Linked DNA regions of Homo sapiens. Each later gene encodes a partner of the first gene's protein in a complex. Each region holds a gene or a part of one and is shown on either strand. Other genes may lie near its edges.

Region 1 (6,243 bases):
TGTCCCCTTGGTGTGTTTCTGGGTCTTTTCAGTGCTGCCTTGCTGAGTGCTTGCAGGTTTGGATTGTCTTTTTGCATTGACTGAAGCCAAAAGCAGCTTTAGGTAGTTCATCTAAAGGTAGAAATGAGTAGATAGACACAACTCCCAATACATGCCTAAGCCAAAGAGAAATGCATTTGACTGACTCGCAGTCATGTATCTCCCAGACACAATTTGTGTGGATCATTCTGAGTCAGTAAGTGTAGATTAACCTGAGGGTAGGGGTCATTGGAGGGGCCAGAGGGAAACCAAGGGTGGCAGGTTCCCACCAGAGCCCTGCCTTCTGGGATTGATCTGGGTGGGGAAAATTAATGGTGTAGGTGCCAAACACAGGGGCTAAGCTCCCTCTACCATCCACAGGCCTTGGACGATGCCAACAAGGGTATCATCAGAGAACTGAGGAAAACCAACTACGTGGAGAATCTCAAAGAAAAAAGCGAGGGAGGTGAGTTCCTGAAACTCTGAAAAGGCAACTTCAGCATTCTCCCTCTGCTTTCTTTTCCTCTAGTCCGAGACACATGCGACAGCAGCTCCCCAATCTGGGGGCTTGGCACTGCCCATCGTGCATTCTAATTTCAGTGCCACCAGCAGCCCTAGCCTATCTCTGGGGCAGTAGAGGGTGAGGATTCAGCCCACCATGGGCTGGACTGTCTGGCCCCAGAGCGCACTCATTTCTCTCTTCAATTGATTCATCAAGTATATGGTGAGCACTTGTCATGTACCTGGAAGGTGTTAGATTCTGGGGAGAGAGGCCCATCCCTGCCCTGGAGGAGCCCATGGCCCTTTGGGCAAGGCTGACCAGTGGAGTTGTCAGCTGCTGGGATCCTGCACACAGGTGCTACACCGAGGTGGAGGTGTGCTGCCATGAGGGTGCATGCAACGGGGCGTGGGCTCCTCTGGGGAGGCAGAGGAGGCTTCGACGAGGAAAAATCTTCTACCTCCAACTCCAAAAGATGCCCAGGAGTTTTCCAGGAGAGAAGTGGGAGAAGAAAGGCATTTTTCCAGCAGGGAACAGCAGGGCCAGAGGCACAGAGACAGAATAACAGTAGCTACACTTTGGGGGCTCTTACTGTGTGCTAGGCACTGGGTTAAGCACCAGACAGGAGTGATCTTGTTGGGTCTTTACCCCACTAGGAGGTGTAGGTGCTGTGGGGGGAAAGGGAGGCTGAGTGAGGTGAGTGCTCTGCCAGAGTCATGTAGCTAGGGAGGGGTGACTCGGGGCCCCACTCTCCCCACCTGCGGCGCTGCTCTCGGGCCAGCAGTGTGATGGGCAGGTGCAGAGGGGCATAAGGTGCAGAGGCTGCCTGACAGCTGTGCCTTACCACATTCTTTCTCACAAGGTCTCCAGGGAGTAAACAGGCCTTTGGCCCCCTGCCTTTGGGCTCTCCTTTCCTGCAGGGAGGGAGTGAGGGAAGGAGAAGCAGAAGATGGCTGAGCAGCCCTACCCCACTGGAGAGGGGCCTAGAGGAACAGGGGTGTTAAGCGCAGTAGCCGACCCCCATTCATGCTTCCCGCAGGCCAGGCATTCTTTCAAAGACTGTGTGCACGGACTCATCCTATCTGTATCTGTTCAGGAACACTATGAAGGAAGTGTTATTAGCTTGACTTTATGGAGGACATGGAGGCAGAGGGGTTAGAGGCTACAGTGGTTTTCAGTCTTGGGCAGTCTGCTCTAGAACCCACGCGTCGGCCCGTGCCACACTGTTTCTAGTGACACAGACAGCCTTTTCCTGCCCCAGTCTGTGGAGCTCTCACTCCAGCCAGACTGCAGTGAACAGAGCTGGGGCTGGAGGTCCGGGAGGACAGAGCCCAATGCAGATTCTTGGCTGCAGCCCTCCAGGCTGCAAGGCTGAAATCCTTTCTGGTCCAGGCAGGGCAGCGGGAGGTTTCTGGGCACCTGAGCAGCCAGATGACAGCCCTTTATTATCCAGCACCTGCTCTGTGGTGGCTGGACCCCCTCAGAGGGGCTCTGTCTCCGCCCCCACATGCCCTTTGAGCTGCTCTGAGAAGCCACAGGAGCAACAGCTGTGGAGAGAGACTCTGCGGGGAAGCAGCCAACACCCCAGTCTCCCTACCCTGGCCTGCGTCCTTGTGCCTGGAGAACTGCCGGGCACGTCCCTCTCAGAACAGCAGGTGGCAGCATTGCATCTGTTTTCACCACCAAAGGGCTGTGACCCCCTGAGACCTGAGACCCTCTGCAGATACCTCAGTAACTAGTGGTTTCCAGGAGGAGAATGTAAGGGAGACGCAGAAGGGGATGTAACTTTTCTCCATAACTGATAAAAAAAAAAATTTAGGAGCAAGGATCCCTTTGCTTGTAAAATAACTCTTCAGCTGAACTTTTTGTTAGCAGCGTATATCTTTATAGGAAACCTATCTTTTTCCTTATGTTTTTTCTATATTTTCATAGGAAACCTCCCAACAAATAATGAATGTGCTTCCCAGGGACAAAGAGAAAGTGTCAGAATGAAGATGCTGGAGAAAATCCTTCTGTCATTTTCCAGCACCTATGCTATTTCTTGCAGGGAAAAGAGGTGTTCTGGGGTCAGACTGTCCTGGGTTCAAATTCTGTCTCACTTGCACACTTGCAGTGTGACCATTGTGTGATTTCTTTTCTTTCTTTTTTTTTTTTTTTGAAACGGAGTCTTGTTCTGTCATCCAGGCTGGAATGCAGTGGTGCAATCTCAGCTCACTGCAACCTCCATCTCAGCCTCCCAAAGTGCTGGGATTACAGGCATGAGCCACTGTGCCTTTTTTTTTTTGAAATGGAGTCTCCCCTCTGTTACCCAGTCTGGAGTGCAGTGGCGCGATCTCAGCTCACTGCAACCTCCATCTCAGCCTCCCAAAGTGCTGGGATTACAGGCATGAGCCACTGTGCCTTTTTTTTTTTTTGAAATGGAGTCTCCCCTCTGTTACCCAGTCTGGAGTGCAGTGGCGCGATCTCGGCTCACTACAACCTCCGCCTCCTAGGTTCAAGTGATTCTCCTGCCTCAGCCTCCTGAGTAGCTGGGACTACAGTCTTGTGCCACCACTCCCGGTTAATTTTTTTTTTTTTTGAGATGGAGTTTTGCTCTTGTTGCCCAGGCTGGAGTACAATGGCACAATCTTGGCTCACTGCAACCTCCGCCTCCTGGGTTCAAGCGATTCTCCTGCCTCAGCCTCCCAAGTAGCTGGGATTACAGGCGCCTGCCACCATGCCCAGCTTATTTTTGTATTTTTAGTAGAGACGGGGTTTCACCTTGTTGGCCAGGCTGGTCTCAAACTCCTGACCTCAGGTGATCCACCTGCCTCGGCCTCCCAAAGTGCTGGGATTACAGGCGTGAGCCATGCCGCCCGGCCGTGTGATTTCTTTTCTATCGATCTCAGGTCCCTTGACTGCAAACTCAAATCAACGGCAGTGCGCATTTTCATGATGTCTGGATGGGATAAGCTATACAGCCCTCACGTGATGCACAGGACGGAGCTGGGCTCAGTCAATGATGGTTCCCTTTCTCTGCTTTTGGAAAGGTGTGCTGTCAACACCAATTTAAAGAGCTGGCAAAAACAGTCATTCTCAGGGCCTTTCTCTCATCGGCCTCTCAAAAGCACAGGCCTCCACAGAGATGAACAGTTTCTTTCTTTTTTTTCTTCTTTCTTTTTTGGAGACGGGTCTTGCTCTGTCACCCAGGCTGCAGTGCAGTGGCTGGATTTTGGCTCATCACAGCCCCAACCTCCTGGGCTCAAGCGATTCTTCTGCCTCAGCCTCCGGGTAGCTGGGACTACAGGCGCCAACCACCACGCCTGGCTAATTTTTGTATTTTTAGTACAGACAGGGTCTCACTGTGTCGCCCAGGCTGGTCTGGAACTCCTGGCCTCAAGGGATCTGCCTGCCTCAGCCTCCCAAAGTGCTGAGATTACAGGCGTGAGCCACCGCACCCGGCCTGACATGAACAAACTTTTATCTTTCTTCCCGCTTTTCTCTTATTTTTCAGAAGCTTCACTGTATGAAGATAGAATAATAACAAGAGAGAAGGACATGAGGAGAGTGAGAGATGAGCCCGAGAAGGTGGTGAAGCAGTGGGACCATAGTGAGGATGAGAAAGAGACAGATGAGGACGATGAGGCTTTTGGGGAAGCTCTGCAGAGCCCAGCAAGCGGAAAGCAGAGTGTGGAAGCAGGAAAAGCCAGAAGCGATTTGGGAGCAGTTGCCAAGGGCCTGTCAGGAGAATTAGGCACAAGATCAGGAGAAACAGGCAGGAAGCTACTAGAAGCTGGCAGAAGAGAGTCAAGAGAAATTTATAGGAGGCCTTCGGGAGAATTAGAGCAAAGACTCTCAGGAGAATTCAGCAGACAGGAACCAGAAGAACTAAAGAAACTTTCAGAAGTGGGCAGAAGAGAGCCAGAAGAACTGGGAAAAACACAATTTGGAGAAATAGGAGAAACGAAAAAAACAGGAAATGAGATGGAAAAGGAATATGAATGAAGCCATCGGTAGAGATGAGGATCAGGAAGCTGGTGTTCAGAGGGATCATGGGATTTTATTAAACTGGATTTTCAAGCGATTTGTCTGTTATAGGAAAAATGAGGGTTTTACTTCTGCTGCTTTCCATCACTATTTTGCCATTAAATAGGTGTCTTTCACTCTTGCAAACCCTGAGTCTGTCACTTTGCCTCTTCACCCCTGCCCATTCTTGGAAGAGCATCGTGGAAGAAATGAGAAAGGTGCCAAGAAGAAAGGGTTTCAGGAGGGTGAAGATACGGGCGCTACAGGGAACAAGAAGTCACAGGGAGGAGAGGGGAAGGCCTGGGAGGAGAGGTGCTTCCCACACACCGGTGACTGACTGAGTCCCTCCAGTGCGCAGGACAGCGGGGAGGCTTTATGGATGGAACAGTGGTGGGGCGGCCCCAGCTGTCACAGGTAGGAGAATGCCGCAAGCCAGAACCAAGCGAATGCTGGGAGTGAGGCCAAAGATAGGGGAGTGGCCTGGGAGTCGGGAGGGCAGACAGACTCCGCCTCTGACACCTCTGGGTGGCATAATCAGGTAAATCAGGCTCTCCAAGCTGGCTTCTCCTCTGAACAATGGGATACCTGCCTCAGGGGTTGCTGCGAGGACTGAGTGCTTAGCACAGCACTTGGACAGGAAACTCAAAAATCCAACGGAGCTCTCAGTGGTTTCACAGAGGAGGTGGCAGCTGAGGATCTGGCCTCAGAGGATGTTAGGATTTCACTCCGTTACTCATCTGTCCCTTTGGCCATTGCCATCCTGGTCTGTCTCCACAGCTCCTAGAAGGAAAGGTCGGGGCTGAGACTGACTTTCGGCTGGCACAGGGCCTGGACGAATGAGGCCAGTGAGGCATTTCAGATGCAGAGTTTACCGGAATGCCAGCAAATTGCATGATAATATTTTAATCCAATGTGGTAAAAAAAAAAGTTTTTAATTAATGCAAAAGTCCATGATGAATAAAATATCAAAAATTAAAGACAGGATCCGACTTTGCACGACCCTGCCTCACTCACTTCCTGCTAATCCACGGGACCGGGGAGGGTGACTGAGTTACCCCTCAACACGCAGAAAAAGCTAGTGGCCGCTCAGCTCGCAGGCGCAGTGGGTGGGTGCGCGTGGGGAGCAGGCGCGCGCAGGGGGCGGGACCGGGCCGAGGTTCCCGCGCGCGGCGAGAGTTTCGGGTTTTGGTTCGCAGCGCCTGCGCGCAGAGGAGACGGCCCGCCCCCAGCCCGCCCGGGTGCCCGCTCCGCCCCCCGGGCTATGTAAAGCGGCCGGGCTCGGGTCGTGCCACCGCTGGACTCCCGTGTCCCTCCGCGCAGGCGGGCGGCCCCGGAGCGCTGGTGCCGGCAGAGGCGGCGACGGTGGCGCCCCTCCTCATCATGGTGAGAGGCCGGGCGGGGCCGGGCACGGGGTAGCACCAGGGCGGGAAACGAGTGTCGGGGCCCCTCGGGAGGAAGCGTCTTGCAAACGAGGACCCGGGGCTCCGGGTTCGACTTCCAGTTTTCTTGGTACTCAGGGCGGCCCTGAGGTCTGGGAGAAGCGGAGGGGTTTTGGGGTGCCGGAGAGGCCGCTGTAAAGGGAAACGGTGGTGTTTCTCAGGAGGGAACTCGGGACCGCAGAAGCTGCTGCGCCTCTGGGAGCCTGGGTGGGCCTGGGCCGGGAGCCCGGGAGCTGCTCCCGACCCCACGCAGGCCCGCGCTGGGGCAGCCGCTTCGGCGCC
Region 2 (8,576 bases), on another chromosome or scaffold:
AACGTCAAAGACATCAAATAGGTAATTGTCAATAGAAGACTCTCCTGTTTTGAGATTCATGAACCCTTAACTTAATAGAAATAAAAAAAGCAGCATACCCTCCAAACAGGAATTCCCATGTTTAGGGAAAAAAATACGATAGTATTAGCCAAGTTACTAGAATAATGATGGTGGTGTCGGATTCTAAACTCTACAAGGCTAGTAGAAATACGTCTCAAAATAAGAATGGTAAGACTAAAGAATGGTAACTTTTTCTCAGTATTTTTACCATGGCATTTACGAGATTTACAACTTCTTTTCCCTGGAAATAGATGTCAGATTCATGAGAATTAGGTAACAATTTTCATTTCAGTTTAGCCTTCATTAATTCATAAGCCAGATTTTGGAAACTAGAGTCACCAGTTTTCCAATAAAAAAGCTTTAAAGCATATTTTAGCACCCAATATGGCTCTTCTTGAGGATTACGTAAAAATTAACATGCAACTATTCAGTAATAGTTTGGAGGAAGGAAATTTTTATTTAAAGGATATACACACAAACAGATACTTGCTCATACACATTATTGTATAAAGGACCATGGTTATAAATACCGAGTTAATTATTTGTGTTCCAATCCCCATTTGAGAATGTAGGTGGAAGGGTTATTGCCTGGTCTTGATAATATAAAAGCTCAAATACCAAGTATGGGCGGAAGTTGGGGAAAATTTATTTTGAAACCAGTCAAAACTGTGATTGAGCATTTTAACAAACAAGGACAAAACCTGTGTGTGTATAACAGAAGACAGCATCTAGGAATGGAAAAATCACACCTCATCCTAGAGGTCAGTACAGGCATTTGTGGGATTTCTGGTTTGGAAAACCACATTTAAAGAGAAACACTAAAAAGTCTGGGAAAAAAGATTCAGCAAATAAATAGTAGGAAACAATATAATGGTTATGATTTCAAAAACAGCTGTTAGTCACTGTGGAAAACAGTATGATAGCTCCTCATAAAAATTAAACACAATTATTGCGTGATCCAGGAATTCTACTTCTATTTACATACTCAGAAGAACTGAAAGCAGGAACCTGTACAACAATGTTCATAGTGTCATCATTCACAACAGTCAAAAGACAGATGCAAGAGTCCATCAATGGAGGAATGGATAGACAAAATGTGGTGTATTCATACAATGAAATATCATTCAGCCTTAAAAAGGAAGAAAATTCTGACACATAGATGAACATTTATGGATATTGCACTTAGTCAAATAAGCCAGACACAAAAGGACACATATTGTATGATTCCTCTTATATAAGGTACTTAGTCAGATTTATAGAGACAAAGTAGAATGATAGTTGCCAGGGACTAGGATGAGGAGGGAATGGTGAGTTAACATTTAATGGGTAGAGTTTCCACTGGGAACAATGAACAAGTTACGGAGGTGGATGGTGGTGTTGCAAGCAGAACAGTGTGAATGTACTTAATGCCATGAAATTAAGCACTTAAAATGGTTAAAATAGTAAATTTCATGTTATATGTAACCACATACACACACACACACAAACCTCCTAAAAAGCAAGAGCTGTTAGTTGTTGCGGAAGAAAAGCCTGCATGAAGAATGATGTACTCTGTTCATGTACATAAAATGGTAGCAGAGGGGATGTTGGTTAGCCATTTTTCCATCTCAGCTGAAATAAAAATTTTTAAAAACTAGTTTAATTTATTACCCAAAGGATCAAAGGTTAGCCATAAGAAAACTTTTATTGCTAAACATTTCTTAAATTCTAGAATACAATACTAAATGAAACAAGAAAATTCAAGAATAGGTTTTCATCTTCTTGGAATGCTGTGAATGTGTCCTGCAGAACATATCTGTAGAACAGTGCATGAACTAGATGTTCTCTTAAGATCTTTCACTCTTCTTTGATTCTACAAAATTTATCCATTGAATCTTGATAGCTTTATTGTCTTGCAACTAAAACAAAATTTAACTTTAGGGGAAAGTTCTTCCGTTAAAGAAAATTTAAAATTATTATAATGTCCATGACGTATAACTATTTCTATAGACTTTAACTAATAATCATCTAAGTTTGTAAGACTCATTGAAAATTTTTTAGTAAACAAAAAAATCAAGAGCAGACTTTTTCCTGCCATATTTTTACTTACCTTTAAAAATATACACTCACCTTTTGATTGTTCACAGAATGATTGTCTGCAATGCATTCAAACTTACCGAACAGAGACTAAATCAAATTCAAACTTACGGAAAGGGACAAAATCAGTATTGTGTATAGCAGCTATTGCATTGTTTTTGAATATTTATCAAAAATGTTTACTAGATGTTTACTAGAAGAATACCTATTCTCCCAGAAATGAAAGTGTTTTAAGAAAAACAATAACAGAACAAAACCCTCATCAGAGTATAGTAGTCATAATAATATCTTAAATTACAGGATTTTTTTCCTAAACATTTTAAGATGCGTACACACACCATAATATTCATTTATATCACCATCCACTAAGAGAGCATTTCTTACCAGGTATTAAATCAGATACTAATGATAATTAGAATGCACTAGATCTTACAATCTCTAAAACTACATCAACATGTTTATTCCTTCTTTTTTGAGCGACTCGGTTATTTGGGGGATTGTTGCTTCTGTTTCTTCAAGTGGCCAGTAGTTTTGCAATTAGCACACACAACTTCTAAGTTTGCTCGACAGGAAATTATCTTCCTCATCTAAACCATACCCACGGCTTCCTTGCTAAAGTGCAATTATGTTTTTCAGTCTGAATATAAACTCAAAGTTTCCTATGAAATTCTAGGACCACCCTTTCAAATGCGAGATTAGAGCAGGTGCCTTCAAATAGGGCTCATCTTGTCACCTGCAAAGTCTCCTTTATCTTTCAACACCAGGGGCCACTGGAAAGTGGGAGTCTAAAGTTGGGAACCCATTCTTTACCACGTGTTTAGTTGTGCTGAACTCTGGTTTCCAAACAAATATTGTTCTGAGGCACAGATGAGATGACACAACTCATCTCTCCGAAAGATGTTGAGAAGTTGAGCACCGTTTTCTCCTATGGGTCTCTTGGTAAGCTTCCAGAACTTGGACCTGCGGGTGTATGTGCGAGCTATAAAGCAGGGTGAGTGCACGGTCTACCTTGGTGGTGCTACTTTTCTTGAGACCAGTTGGTTTTAGCATTTATTTTACACCTCATTGAGGCTAACATCACATGTTTCTATCAGGTAAAAGAAGAGGGTTGGAGAAGCAAGTAAATGCATGTGTGGGAGTGTAGGTAGCACCAGAGGCGGAGGCCTGGGTTCCTAAGATCAAACGCAAGGAGCTGGCACCCCGGGATTCCCTCTCTGACTTCTGCTTAAGGGGCCGGGGTGGAGGGGCGGTAGGTAGCCCACAGAGTCCCAGCAGGCGGGAAGCAGGCACAACAGCGGACCTTAGCACGGGGTGGGACCCAGGCTCGGTCCAGGAGCCTCGGCCTGTCCAGCACTACATTCTTACTTACAATGCTTGCAATTTTTGGTTAAGGTGTCCGTCAGCTTCTGCAGTTTCTTGCGGTTCATGTCTGGCGCTCAGAGAATCGGGCCGCGGCGGGGGTCTCTGGGCGCGCGGCTACCGAGACCCTCGCGGGACCCCCGCGAGCCCTGGTGCTGGGTCAACGCGGTGAGGTCTCAGTTACTGATCTCGTGCGCGGCCCTAACAGACGGTGTAGCCAAGGCAACGGCTCAGCCCGCCGCGGATTGGCTCCCAGGCTGCCCGCGACGTAGCCAAAGCTACAGCTGGGCCCCGCCCATCGGCTCAGCGACTGCTCGCGCTGGGTTCTCGGTGCGCGGTGCCGCCGGCAGGGTCCCAGCTGGCCGCCTTGAGGGCTGTATTCTGACTGTTGACGTTGGAGTTTAAATGTTCAGTTGTTGCTGGCTTTTGAGTTCGCAGCCTCTTTGCTTGATTGCAGTGTAAATCATTAAAATCTGAAATGTGGTGTGCACGCTGTATGAGAGGTGTTTCGGGTCGTGAGCGTCACGCCTCAAGGGAAGGCCCAAGATCTTGGACATCTTGGGGGCTGGAGCAGCGTCACAAAATAGCAAGGTGCTGTCCAGAGGACGATCTTGCCGGGCCTCCCGTCAGAGGGCTAGAAGCTTGCTCTTTGGGCGGAGCCACTGCTTAGGTTTTCAGTCTTGGTGAGGTAACAGGAGGCAGTCTGTCACCTGAGGTCTTCGAGCTTTTAGTTGTGTTTCTGAGAGCAAGGGGAAATTGGAATACAGCCACGGGTTGCCTAAGGAGCGGGACGCGTTCCGAGGTCACTAGGAGATTTCATCACTGTGTGCACATCACGGTGCACCGACACAAACCTAGATGGCCTTGCCTACTGCACGCCAGGCTGTATGGTACAACCCATTGCTTCTGGGCTGCACCCCTGCACAGCAGGTCACAGCGCGGAATGCTGCAGGCAGCTAAAACAGAGTGCTAAGCACTCTGGGGAAGGTGCAGTGTTCCAGTACAGTGTTACATCTTATGGGACCACTGTCCTAATGTTGTCTGATGTTGACTTAAATGGCGCTATGTGGCTTGTGACTGTAGTTTTTTTCTTTTCCCACTGCCCTCATCTCACTTCCAAAAGATGGAGGTTGTCTGTGGAATCTGAGGAAAGCCACGAGGAATTTTTATACTGCTTAAATAGGCATTCCCCCCAATGAAAACGGGCTGACAACACCACTTGGGTGTGGGGTACAGCCCAATCTTGCTTTTCCGGAAAATATCTCAGCAACCTTGGTCCTTTACTTATTTGAAAGACAAGTTCTGTGCCGGCAGACAAAGGATATTCCTTACATCTTCAGGGTGGGAGGACTTTCTGCTTTTCCTGATCACAGAGGGGATATCCTCTTTCAGCTAAGGCAGCAATAAAAAGGGGTGGCTCAGCCAGGATCACCAAATCTACAGTATTCTCCAGAGTGCCTGCTCGTTTAACTTCAGAGGGGAAAATGACAAACTATGTTATTGTACACATACTGGCATTTTTAGACTGAAGGCAGAAAAATTCTACTAACCATGAGTAATAATCCCAAATGAAATAATTCCAATGTCGAGGCCTCTGGTTTTTCTTTACTGTTTCATTTGTTTGTGGAATGAAGGATTGGGATGCTGTTTGAAACTAGAGCAAAGGGTGCTTGGTAAAGGCATGGACTGTGTTATCCTAAAGCAAATGTCCTAACAACAGTTACCCGATATGAATTGATGGTGATTATGAGTTTGTAACAGTAGTATTTTTAAATAGTGTTTCTACATATCCCCTTGTCTAGAAGAGTGAAATTCCTGAGACCATAGAGAACAAAAGGGAAAGACTGGACATATTTGAATTATACTTACCTGTGACACCTTATTGATTTCTGTTGGATCACAGAGCTGTAGCAAATACTTAATTCCTAGAGATTGCTGCACTGCTCACTTCAAGAGACAAGGAACCGAAAGAGTGGTTGTCAGTAATTACTAAGAGACGCTGTGGGCTCCCCACCTGATGTACTAGGCCTGTGTTGGGGAGCAGGCCTGCGCTGTTGGTGAGCACATTGGTGGTTATTTCTGGTGGCCTGGGGAGATCGCATACACCGGGTGCTTGCTATAGGTAAGCTAATTAGTTATTCCTTCACGAGTTTAAGGCCTAGAGCCCATCAGCCATGTTCCCTTAAAGTTAAAAAAATAATAAAAAGATGTAGGGGCAATATCACAGATTGTTGAAATTAAAATATGCCGGGCCAAAACTCCTTAACCTGTTGAGCAAACTTTGTAAGTCACCTCCTCCTCTTCCACTTCTTTTATCCTCCAGTTCTTTCTTCCATGCAGTTCTTTTAGCCAAAAAAATCAACCAATCTATCTATCTATCTATCTATCTATCTATCTATCTATCTATCATCTATCTATCTATCTTTCTATCTATCTATGCAAATGCATTGTTTTGTGAATCTCACTTATCTAAGAGAGTGATTTGCAGAGTTGACCTTACAATAAGGTCTTATCATCTTTTTCAGGGAAAGCACAATGTTTATTTGGAGTATGTTTTGTCAACATACGGGTAAACTTCAGAGCTTTCATTACATTCTTGTGAAGTTTTGGAACTTAATATTTTTAGACTTTAGAAACAAGTTGCAGGCCTGATTGAGTCAGTGAATAACATTTCAAAGCAAGTTGAAGTTTCTATTTGTAGTTTTAGTTGCTTATGCTGAGTAGACACAGGACTGCTTTCCCCCAAGAGCTTTCTCAGAGTAAGGCAATTAAGCCTAAGAGGCTACTTCATATTAAATCAATCAATAATGGAATAATAAAGGATTGTGTTTAATTCGTATTGGACATAAATTTTACTGTGCATGAAATGATCATAGAACTTTCCAAAAATCCAAGCAACCTCAAGATGAATAACTTTGTAAACACAGAAGTACATTAAAGTGACTATTAATGCTATGTTTCCTTTAGTTTTGTGTGCAAAACAATCTTCCCTTTGACTCAGCATTCACTGGATTGTTGCCATGATAAACAGCTTGGACCTTGACTTGATGAAATTGTTTTCCTTAATGTGGACCTTTTATGATGAAGGCCTTTGGAAACTGTTGAGGAAATGACATCATAGAATTGATCTCCAAGTATATCACAAATCTATTATAAAATTGCTTGAATAAAAGGGAAATAGGTTAGTTACCTGCATAATAGAAATTCAACTTTACTAATTTTATTTTGTGGAGACAGCGATAACAAAAATAAGAGTTATATGTGTGACCAGTTGTTTGGGTGGTCGAATCTCCAAATCTCTACCACTTGTCACTCTCCCCTTTGCTGTAGGGTTGTGGTGACAAGCTAGAGTCTCAGTATTCAGACCCACAGAACACTGTCTTATGCACAACTTCTGCATATTTTTCACCCCAACCACTCCCAGTGGCAACTCTTCAAAGAGCTCTTTCTGACACCCTACGTGAAGTGAAGTGAACCCTTCTCCACCCAGCCATTCTCTTCCTTGATACTATTTTTTTAGCACTTGCTACTGTGTGAAACAATTGTTTTTTTCTAACCTCTCCTTCCCACCAGACTAAATCACATGATCTCTCTCTCTCTCTCCATATATTTAAGTCTATTTCACTCGCTGTATCTCTGCATTTGTTTGTTTATCATCTGTCTGTACCTCTGAAATTTGACCACATGGTCCATGTTGTGTGGTCTGTATTGATGGAAAGTGGTAGGAGAACCACTCCAGCAGGAATGAACCCCAGGTTTCCCTGCAGCACCCTGGGGCTGAGTCCCTGGTACAGTAACCACAATGGAGCCTTTAAAGGGAGCTGGGCAATATAGAAGAGCTTTCATTTAAACTGACCTTTCTCCAAAATTCACACTTGATATTCACTGGTGTTGACGTATTTCTAGACTTTTTTTTTTTTTTTTTTTTTTACTGTAATCAAGTGACCAGCCAGTAAGACAAATGCCTAAGGTTTACTAAGGATAGGATTCTTGTATCTCAACATGTAATTTATAAAGTTGTAAATTAAGATGTGGCCTGTGACAGTTAATTATTATGATAGCCATAATGTCAGCAGGTCTGAAGTTTTCGGTAAAGAATCTGGCTCTTTGAGACCTGGCAGAGCTGACCAAGAAATCCTGCTGAATGTGCTGGGCTTGATCCCCTCAGCACTGGGTCATGCGCCACTGTAGCCAGAGTCATGGCAACTGTACTACCTGCAAAGCTGCCTCAGAGACAGAAGATACCCACACCTTTTTCTTACCAAGCCCAGGGCATCTTGCAACATTTGAGCCCTAACCAGGGAATTCATGAGCATCACTAAGCACAGAACAGGACCTGACCTACCCAGAGACCCCACCAGGCAATGCCTGGTCCTCTTAGCCAATGTCAACCAGAAAATAACTGGTATCACTTCTGATACTTGCCACCATTGTTTAAACCACTTCCCCCAACTCCATAGTTCTTGCTCCCTAAATGAAAAGGAAGCACCCAAGATCGCCTACCTTGAATCATGTTACCCCTTTAGTAGACTCTGTTTATTAGCCTGCACTCTCTAACCCCTTTCACTCATATCCAACAAAACTCATTTCAACTGTGAATGTTTACCTTACCAGATCCATCTTTGCACAAAGCCAACTCTCCACCTTTCTTCCCTGAACCTGCTACTCCCCTGAAAATATTGCTTGTCCTGTAGATATTCTCCAGAAAAAACTACCCATTTCCTCAAATCTACTCACTCATAGCCAGAAGAAAGTCAAAATCATCTGGACTGTCATCAACTTTCCATGATCTTATGAGCTCTATCCATTCTTCTCTACACTTCTTAGAAAGTGCAAGTGCTGCTCCCCCCTCCAGTGCTGCACCTCTTGCTTTGTTCATCCTTTATGCTCCTGCCTGTTTCCTGAATTTGCCTGCTGTCTTCCATCTTGTGCTCCTCAAAACTGCCTGCTGGATTGCCAAAGTGATCCGACCATTTCTTCCTCCTGCTTAACATTGAAAGGCCTTCCCAGTGCCAGCAAGATGGAGTCCAGACCCAGTAGCATGGTTTCCATGGTTTTCCAATATGTGGCATCTGCCAGGC

What was found.
Region 2: ODAD4 (region 1) and CLXN share a complex: the UniProt entries of both Homo sapiens proteins name them as parts of the outer dynein arm-docking complex.

Annotation. Positions count from the first base shown.
Region 1 is NC_000017.11:41,960,983-41,967,225, forward strand, and holds the end of ODAD4 (outer dynein arm-docking complex subunit 4), read left to right. Parts: intron 1-399; coding exon 400-484; intron 485-4,010; coding exon 4,011-4,501; 3' UTR 4,502-5,521; downstream 5,522-6,243. Other genes in the region: CNP (2',3'-cyclic-nucleotide 3'-phosphodiesterase), read left to right, coding at 5,903-5,905. UniProt on the Homo sapiens protein: Component of the outer dynein arm-docking complex (ODA-DC) that mediates outer dynein arms (ODA) binding onto the doublet microtubule. Plays an essential role for the assembly of ODA-DC and for the docking of ODA in ciliary axoneme.
Region 2 is NC_000008.11:48,731,589-48,740,164, forward strand, and holds the start of CLXN (calaxin), read right to left. Parts: upstream 3,681-8,576; 5' UTR 3,564-3,680; coding exon 3,506-3,563; intron 3,097-3,505; exon of another isoform or gene 2,947-3,096; intron 1,672-2,946; exon of another isoform or gene 1,549-1,671; intron 1-1,548. UniProt on the Homo sapiens protein: Component of the outer dynein arm-docking complex (ODA-DC) that mediates outer dynein arms (ODA) binding onto the doublet microtubule. Seems to regulate the assembly of both ODAs and their axonemal docking complex onto ciliary microtubules.